Regions from separate parts of the Homo sapiens genome. Here region 2 is linked to region 1. Evidence: fine-mapped expression QTL. A gene starts in region 1. The other region holds a variant in brackets. All regions are shown on one strand. Distances are from middle to middle. Region 1 holds the start of ALDOC (aldolase, fructose-bisphosphate C). Region 2 overlaps FAM222B (family with sequence similarity 222 member B).

Region 1 (4,387 bases):
CATAACGGGCCAGCACGTTGGCGTTCTCCAGAATGGCAAGTGCAGAGGGTGTACGCTCACTGATTTTCAGCACACAGCGCCACTTGGCAAAGTCAGCACCATCCTTCTTGTATTGGGCACAGCGTTCTGAGAGCCCATCCAGCCCTGCAAGCACAGTGCCAACCTCATTACTCTGCCCCTCTTTTACCAGCATCAACTATCTAACACCTCTTTGGTCCTCAAGCCCACCCATCCTATACCTTGAGTGGTGGTTTCTCCATCAGTCCCAGCTAGAGGCACCACACCCTTGTCAACCTGTAGAGGAAGTACAAGCAGAGGGTTGAATCCAGGCAGGATTCTCCTTGCTACCCCTCCTACACAAGCTTATTTTCACACCCAGCTTCCATTCAGAGCAGGGCCAGGGGCTGCACCTTGATGCCCACGACGATGCCCTTATCCTGGATGGTTCGGACGAAGGGAACACCATTATCATCTTTCTGGTAGAGGGTCTCATGGAAGAAAATGACGCCTCCAATGCACTTTTTCACACGGTCATCAGCACTGAACAGGACCTGGCGGTACAGCCGGCGGTTCTCCTCTGTGTTTTCCACCCCAATTTGGCTCAGCCGCTTGGCCATGCTGCCTAGGGGCAAACAAAGAGAGGCAGTGAGAACATCCCCAGGGTCCCCTAGCCACCTGTACCCTACCTGGCTACAGATGTCCACTTACCTACAGACTCATCCGCAGCCAGAATGCCTTTGCCCGGGGCTACAATCCGCAGGGCAATGTCAGACAACTCCTTCTTCTGCTCAGCAGAAAGGGCTGGGTACGAGTGAGGCATGGTGACAGCTCCCTGGAGTGGAGACAAGATAAAAAAGCCAGACCTCACCCTCTGCTGCCTCTCCTGGCCAGATGGGCCAAATGGCCTCCCCATCAAGCAAGGGGCTGGGAACAGGGCAGCAGTCCTTGGCATGAGTCCTGGGCATCAAGTGGCACCAGTCCTTCTGACAGCTAGCAAGCTTAGGGCTCCAGTTCCCACATCTCCTTTTGTCCCTGGTAGGCATCCTTCCCAGCCCTGGGGAAAGATGCAGGGTGGGGGTGGGGAGGTGAGCAGCCCTGAAGCCACAGCTCTTCTGATAAATCTGCTGCCCAATCAAGGATGCCAACCCTTCTTTCACTGAACTTGGTCCCTTGTTGAGGTAGGCAAAAGTCCTGGCCTTTCCAGCTTCCCTTTTCTCATCCTCCACAGGACCCCTAGGGAAAGTGTACTTACTTCCAAGGCTTCAGAATGAGGCAAAAGTACTTATTGCCACCCTCTTCTCTCAGCTTCTAGAGGAAAAGGTTGGAAGAACAGGTAGGGAGTAGGAGTGGCACAAATACCAGTCACAGGCTCCTGCAGCTTCTCCTTTTCTGTACTCCAAACCTGCCTGCCTATGCCTATTGCCTATTCCCACCCAGTACCAGAGGTTGGCCCCAGTGGGGCTGCAGTGATGTAGGAAAGAGGGCCCAGCGGGTCAGCTGTGTTAGTGTGTGGAGACTAGGGCTAGTGACACCTCCGGGTCATCTCTGTGCCCAGGAAGCACTTCACCTGTTTGGCAGGAGGATAGCAATAGGAAGCACTTCAATTCCCCACAACTCAGACACCCAGACGGGAGGGCAGAGGACCAAGGCTGAAAGGAGTAGAGAGCCTGAGAGAGAGATGAGACTGAGGGGAGCTAGTGGTGATGCAGGCTAACCAGTCAGCGGGAGAGACCTAGACCGGGGGGCAGAGAAGGCGGGAGAACTGGAGAGAGGACCTAGCCTAGGAGGAGAGGGAGCAGGCTGAGAAGGAAATGCTCTGGGTAGGAGAGACAGACTCCAAGGAAAAATCCAACAAGTAGAGGAGGATTTGGGATTGGAAAAGCTGAGGTCCAGCTGGGAGAGCTGAAGAGGGATAGAACAGAAGAGGTTGAGCCATGGGGTTTCAAGTACGCGGAAAGGAGCAAAGATGTTAGGAAAGGGTCGAAAGGGCACATCCCGGAGTCCCAGGTAGCAGGACGAGGATGGCAGGGGAAGAGCCAAGGAAATGAAGCGGAGATGTTGAGTGGCTCCCGCCTTGCCTGGCCTTACCTGTGCGCAGCCAGTTAGCAGCCGCAGCCACAAGCACAGCTCGGGTTCTGATCCGCAAACAGATGAGGCTGCAGCCCTGGCTCCCTCTGGTAAATGAGGCTGCGGATGTCGCAGAGCTACGTGACTCCTCCGGGGGCGTGGCCTGCATGCCCCGCCCTGACCACACCCCCTCCCCAGGACTGGTGTCCGGGGCAAGACCACGCCCTCAGAGGCGGGGCGGCGAGGTGGAGTGAGCGCCCCGCCAGGCATCCGTGGCTGTTAGGGACTGCCCTCCCACCTCGGGGAGCCTGGCCATGACCTTGCGTTCATTTCTGCCACAATCCCTTTACCACGTGCCGGGCACTTGCTGGATGCTGGGGATTAAGCTTAGTCTGGTGAAGAGGAGGCACCAGAACAGTAACAACAGGTTGAGTAGGTGGGGCAGAAGCATCTTCAAGGTGCCCAAGTTCAGGGCAGGAAGTAATGAACTGAGCTTCTCTGTCCTCACCCCCATATTTGCCAGGGTATACCCCCGAGGGGGCTGGGGAAAGTAAGAGAATGAAGCCTTTCTGTTTCCTCCAGGCGGTGAGCCAGGGAACAAGCAGTCCAGTGCCCAGAGTTTTGGTGAAAGCAGAGGAAGGGAGGAAGGGCAGGCAGCCTTGGCTTTGGATGCAGCAGGAGGTGGAGAGGGATCTATGGAGGGTGCCCAGGCAGGAGGCCCAAGCTGCTTCTTCCCTGACTTCATCATCCGCCCCCTCTCACCCAAAAAGTAAGATTCCGTAAGCTTGGAGAAATTCATTAAATACACTTTATTTAAATAGCATTTATCTCAGTTGGCTCTATGCCAGTTGGTCTTGGTATTGGGGTAAGGGGGTATTGCAGGTAAAAAGAGGTGAAGCAGATTCTGGCTTTCAGTTTCTTAGCTCAGAAATTCCAGCAATCCCTGTAGTTCTTTGCATCCCCTCACCACCTCTGGAATAGAGAGCAGGGTCTGGGAAGAGAGGCAGAAAACGCAGCTCAGGACCACAGACTTAAGGCCCAGGGCTCCCAGCCCCAGGAGGCAGCCGCTGAATTAGAGGGGAGAAAACAGACACCACAGAGAAGCCTGCAATAGTGATTCAGGCCCAGCTCTCAGCACAGGCTGGGAACCAGATCTGTGCTCATTAGTACCTCCTGGGGCCAGGCCTTGTACCAGGTTCATTAGTGATATCACCTCCCTCCTGCCTATACCTTATAAATATGCTGAACAATGTCATCTAGTTTTTCTAACTCCTTGTCAGAGCGCCGAAGGTTCTCCTCTAGGATATTTCTCTAGAAAGCAAACAGATTTTATAAGTCCTATGCATAAAAGAGCAAACTTGGTAGGACAGGGGAAACATGGCGGGGCATTTGTTAACGATGGTAGGAAATGGCCCTGGAATGGCATGGACATTCTTACATGGCTCTGGAACTTGATCATGAGTTTTTCCTTCTCATTTTTCATCTCCAGGAACATCACTCTCAGTTTGTCCACCTAGAAATATGTCCAGATCAACAGGGGTACAGCCTGGGGTCCCCACCTGCTGTCCAGCTCCTCTGTTAACTCTGAGTCACCTCCTGAGAGAGCCACACTTTCTCCTGGATCCAATTGGTGGCCATAGGCTGGCAGTTGGAGTCCAGCTGGCCTGCCAGGGCCTCCTGGAGCACTTTGGTCTCTGTCTCCGCACGCCGAAGTGAGCGGGTAAGGTGGGTCACCTCCTCTCTAAGGCTCTGGGAATGAGAATGGAGAGGTGTCCAATAGGACATAAGGATAGACAACATGTGGTGAACAAAAGCAAACCATTTCTCATACTTGGGATCCTGGCTGACCAGTAACACAGAAGGCAAAGGCCTGGGCATGATGGTGAACATACTATGAGCTCGCCACTCTTGTCTATCTGTTCTAGGATCTTCTCATTCTGCTGCTGTATCACTTCCTGGAGCTCCTTTTCATTCTGTGAGGGAAAGGGAGGTGAGAAGACACATGAAGAGCTGGTCTCTTCACAGCCCTTGCCAGGAGGTAGGAGAGAGTGCCTGACCCATGCTTAGCCCACATGGGACCAATTGATATCACGCCAATTCTTTCCCCAGGGCCAAGCCAGGCAAGGCACATTTCAGTGTTGGGAGAGCTCTGCTAGAGTTCCTGACTTCTCTCCTGAGTCAGCCTGGGAAGACAGGTCAGCCCATAGCTGACATGTGAAATGTCTGACCCCAGGAAGGGCAAAACTAGGGCAGTGGTTGGAAAATCCCCACCACCCAGATTCCTGGAGAGATAATGGCTCCCAGTGGGCCAGTAGAGCTG
Region 2 (4,387 bases), 260 kb after region 1:
CGCCTGTAATCCCAACACTTTGGGAGGCCGAGGTAGGCAGATCACAAGGTCAGGAGATCGAGACCATCCTGGCTAACACGGTGAAACCTCATCTCTACTAAAAATACAAAAAATTAGCCGGGCGTGGTGACGGGCACCTGTAGTCCCAGCTACTCAGGAGGCGGAGGCAGGAGAATGGCGTGAACCTTGGAGGCGGAGCTTATAGTGAGCCGAGATCGCGTCACTGCACTCCAGTCTGGGCGACAGAGACTCCATCTCAAAATAAATAAATAAATAAATAGAATTTAAAAACAAAAAAAAGATTTTTGGCTGGGCGCGGTGGCTCACACCTGCAATCCCAGCACTTTGGGAGGCCGAGGCAGGCGGATCACCTGAGGTCGGCAGTTCGAGACTAGCCTGGCCAACATGGTGAAACGTCATCTCTACTAAAAATACAAAAATCAGCCAGGTATGGTGGTACGCGCCTGTAATCCCAGCTACTCAGGAGGCTGAGACCAGAGAATCACTTGAACACAGGAGGCAGACGTTGCAATCAGCTGAGATCTCGCCATTGCACTCCAGCCTGGGCAACAGAGTGAAACTTGGTATCAAAAAAAATAAAATAAGGCCGGGCATGGTGGCTCATGCCTGTAATCCCAGCACTTTGGGAGGCTGAGTCGGGCAGATCACAAGGTCAGGAGATCGACACCATCCTGGCTAACACGGTGAAACCCCGTCTCTACTAAAAATATGAAAAGAAATTAGCCAGGCATGGTGGCGGGTGCCTGTAGTTCCAGCTACTAGGGAGGCTGAGGCAGGAGAATGGCGAGAACCCGGGAGGCGGAGCTTGCAGTGAGCCGAGATCGCGCCACTGCAATCCAGTCTGGGCAACAGAGCAGGACTCCGTCTCAAAAAATAATAATAATGATAATAATAAGCCAATAAATATTTATTTTAGCCCCTGGTATGTCAGAGATTCACAGGAAGTCCTTAAATCTCCAAAGTTCCTCTCCCACTTTAGAAAAACTTCTCACACGAAAGGCAATCAAGATACTAGCCCACCCCTTTTTCTTCCCCAGGGAAAGAAATCCTCATTTTGTAAGGTCATTTACTACATAAAAGTAACCACAAGTAGGAAAGATAACAGAAGGAGAGGAGGACAGGAAATTCTCATCACAGCTGAACAAACCTCTATTATTTTAACATAACATGGGTGGCATTTATGCGCTTATTTGAACTGATGGAAATTTCCAGTAGGGGGAAAAATGCATTACCAACATTAAAAATAAATGTCCAACTATTAAAAAATAAAATAAGATAGCTATGCCCAGCTTTAACATTTTATACTCTACTCCATGTAGTAGTCAAACATGGAATAAATTTCTGTAATGACCTATCACAATAGTAACAAATGCTTTATTTTTAAAACTATTATCTTAAACAAAGTATTATAGACAAATAATCTATTGGGACGGTCAAGGAACTAAAGTAAAAAGGTTAAAATTATACATCACTGTGCATTTCCAGGAAAGAAAAGTGAAACACATTTTACCAGACAGAGAAGTTAAAAACAACCAGGTTCATTTTTCCCATTCCTGTAAATTCACTCCCCTTATTTGTGAATCTTCAAGAATCTAGTATAGCCCCTCCCTACCTTTACTCAGGTAAAAGACCAATCACTCATCAATTGCCAAAACGCCTTGACAGTTTAAGGTCTCAATCCTCAGAGTCAGCAAAGCTGAAGTGTCTATGTCCTTTTAAAAGGAGTCTGCATCTCTACTTTAGAAACCATTTTCTCACTGCGCTTGGTGGCTTACGCCTGTGATCCCAGCACTTTGGGAGGCCGAGGCAGGCGGATCACCTGGTTCGAAACCAGCCTGACCAAAATGGCGAAACCCCATCTCTACTAAAAATACAAAAACTAGCCGGGCATGGTGGTGGGTGCCTGTAATCGCAACTACTTGGAGGCTGAGGCAGGAGAACTGCTTGAACCCGGGAGGTGGAGGTTGCAATGAGCCGAGATTGCGCTACTGCACTCCAGCCTGGGCGACAGAACAAGACTCTGTGTCAAAACAAAATAAAATAAAAAGAACCCATTTTCTCTTTCCATAAACACATAGTTTGTCCTCTGCTTTGTCTACATTAAAAAACACGTCTCAGGAGTGTTTCTTCAGCCTCTCAGGAAAACCAAGACACCTCTTGGGCTCCTCTTCTGA[G/C]ATATTCCACCTGAGAGATCCCACTGACAAGCAGGGTAACAAAAAGCAGAGCTAGAGGGCTGCCTTATGCATATCTGACCTCCAAAACAGCGACAGGTCCCCGGAGCAGCCAGAGACTCCTTTGCAAAGGAGAACTTTTTATAATTTAAAAATAATAAAATGGGCCAAGCACGGTGGTTCACGCCTGTAATCCCAGCACTTTGGGAGGCTGGGGCGGGCGGATCACCTGAGGTCAGAAGTTTGAGACCAGCCTGTCCAGCAATGGAGAAACCCCGAGTGTACTAAAAAAAATACAAAAATTAGCCGGGTATGGTGGCACGTGCCTATAATCCCAGGTACTAGGGAGGCTGAGGCAGGAGAATTGCTTGAACCCAGGAGGCGGAGGTTGCAGTGAACCAAGTTCGCACCACTGCACTCCAGCCTGGGTGACAGAGCAAGACTCCTTCACCCACCTCAAAAAAAATTATAATAAAATAAAATAAAAATAAAGATAACAAAATAGCCAGGCACGGTGGCTCACGCCTGTAATCCCGGCACTTTGAGAGGCCGAGGTGGGTGGATCACCTGACGTGAGGAGTTCAAGACCAGCCTGGCCAACATGGTGAAACCCCATCTCTACTAAAACTACAAAAATTAGCCAGGCGTGGTGGTGGGCATTTGTAATCCCAGCTACTCAGGAGGCTGAGACAGGAGAATCGCTTGAACCCGGGAGGCGGAGGTTGCTGTGAGCCGAGATGATGCCACTGCACTCCTGCCTGGCGACAGAGCGAGACTCCGTCTCAAAAATAAAATAAAATATAATAAACAAATTATATTTTCACATCCCTCACTGGGCAGCCCTCCCAGCTTGTCTCAAACTAGTTTTCTTAACTCTTTTTTCCAGACGGAGTCTCGCACTGTCACCCGAACTGGAGTGCAATAGCACTATCTCGGCTCACCGCAACCTCTGCCTCCCGGGTTCGAGTGATTCCCCTGCCTCAGCTTCCCAAGCAGCTGGGATTACAGGCGCCCGCCACCACACCCGGCTGATTTTTTGTATTTTTAGTAGAGACGGGATTTCACTACGTTGGCTAGGCTGGTCTCCAACTTCTGACCTCGTGATCCGCCCGCCTCGGCCTCCCAAAGTGCTGGGATTACAGACATGAGCCACTGCACCCGGCCTTTTCTCAACTCGTTAAAGCACATTAGTGCCAACTGTGTTATAAGGCAACATGAGTTAGCTATGTTCAGAAAATATTTTAATAGATTGGCCCTCCATCCTTTCGGGTGAGGAGCTGCAAACCGTTTGTAAAAACGCCGGAGTACGGTATTTTTCCTACAGAAGTCTGATGGCTAATTTATCACATTACAGAACTGGTAGTTCTGCACATGGTCTGCTGTGCCCATAAAGAAAGCACATATGTGTCTACTGAGGTTTTACAAACAATACGCTTCTTATCTTAACAGAGAAATCAGTCATTCCATTAACAACGGTAAGGTCTAAATTCCACTAACATTGTTGGTGATACATTAACATCAACATAGTACTTACAATTCACAATTTGCATAAACAATCTCAATTACATAGGTGATGCTTGCAATAGCCCGTTTGAAGCATGACATCTTCCTGGTGTTCAGAAAGGTTAAGTGGGACCTGCCCAAGGTTACCTAACAGCTTTATCAATGGTGGACTTCCTTTCGAACCTGCCTGACTCTAAGCCCCTAGCTCTTTTCCCTAGACCCCTCCCGGCTTTCAAAAGAGGGTTCCCGACTCCCATCCTCTACCCAGAGCAGCCTATTACTCCGGGAGACCGACCCTTCCCCTGCCTGGTTCAGAGGTGGCTTCTTAAGCTCCAGCAGAGCTTTCATCCTCCACCACCCTCCCCCCGCAATCATTCTCTGAAAGAAGCGGAAAGGAGAGGCGACCAAAAGCTCCTGGAGGAAGGGATGATACAAATGGGCTGCTTCACTCCACAGCACGCAACCCCGTCCCCCTCCACCAAGCTGTCCAGCTCTGCGGCCGGCGACCGGGCCACCCGTGCCCCAAATTCTCCCATCATCACCTCAAACTGTACCTCCCCCACGCCCTTCCGTCTCCCACAGTCAGAGCCCACCCCACAAAGTCATGTATCCTTCCGCTAAGTTACCCTCTTCCCACGCGTTGTCCACTCCCCCTCCACCACTACTCACGGTCGGTGACTGGGCCCGGCCCT

What was found. PIP is the estimated chance that this variant, and not a neighbour inherited with it, causes the effect.
Region 2: its variant is the best candidate, but not a certain one, in a credible set for the expression of ALDOC in whole blood (TOPMed, PIP 0.68).

What each region holds. Positions count from the first base shown.
Region 1 is chr17:28,574,713-28,579,099 of GRCh38, forward strand. ALDOC (aldolase, fructose-bisphosphate C) reads right to left here and starts at 2,183. Exons shown (of 9, transcript NM_005165.3): 1 at 2,089-2,183; 2 at 709-832; 3 at 411-622; 4 at 240-294; 5 at 1-144. The coding sequence starts at 820. It overlaps SPAG5 (sperm associated antigen 5), which reads right to left. Exons shown (of 24, transcript NM_006461.4): 20 at 3,960-4,040; 21 at 3,661-3,816; 22 at 3,506-3,580; 23 at 3,298-3,378; 24 at 2,862-3,058. The coding sequence ends at 2,987. RefSeq lists a silencer at 2,116-2,355 and an enhancer at 2,406-2,585.
Region 2 is chr17:28,838,318-28,842,704 of GRCh38, forward strand. FAM222B (family with sequence similarity 222 member B) reads right to left here. Exons shown (of 3, transcript NM_001077498.3): 1 at 4,365-4,387. Among named protein-coding and RNA genes, the nearest start is that of FAM222B, 2.3 kb to the right of the region's middle. RefSeq lists enhancers at 1-210, 4,052-4,387 and a silencer at 4,252-4,387. The variant G/C (reference allele first, on the strand shown) is at 2,196.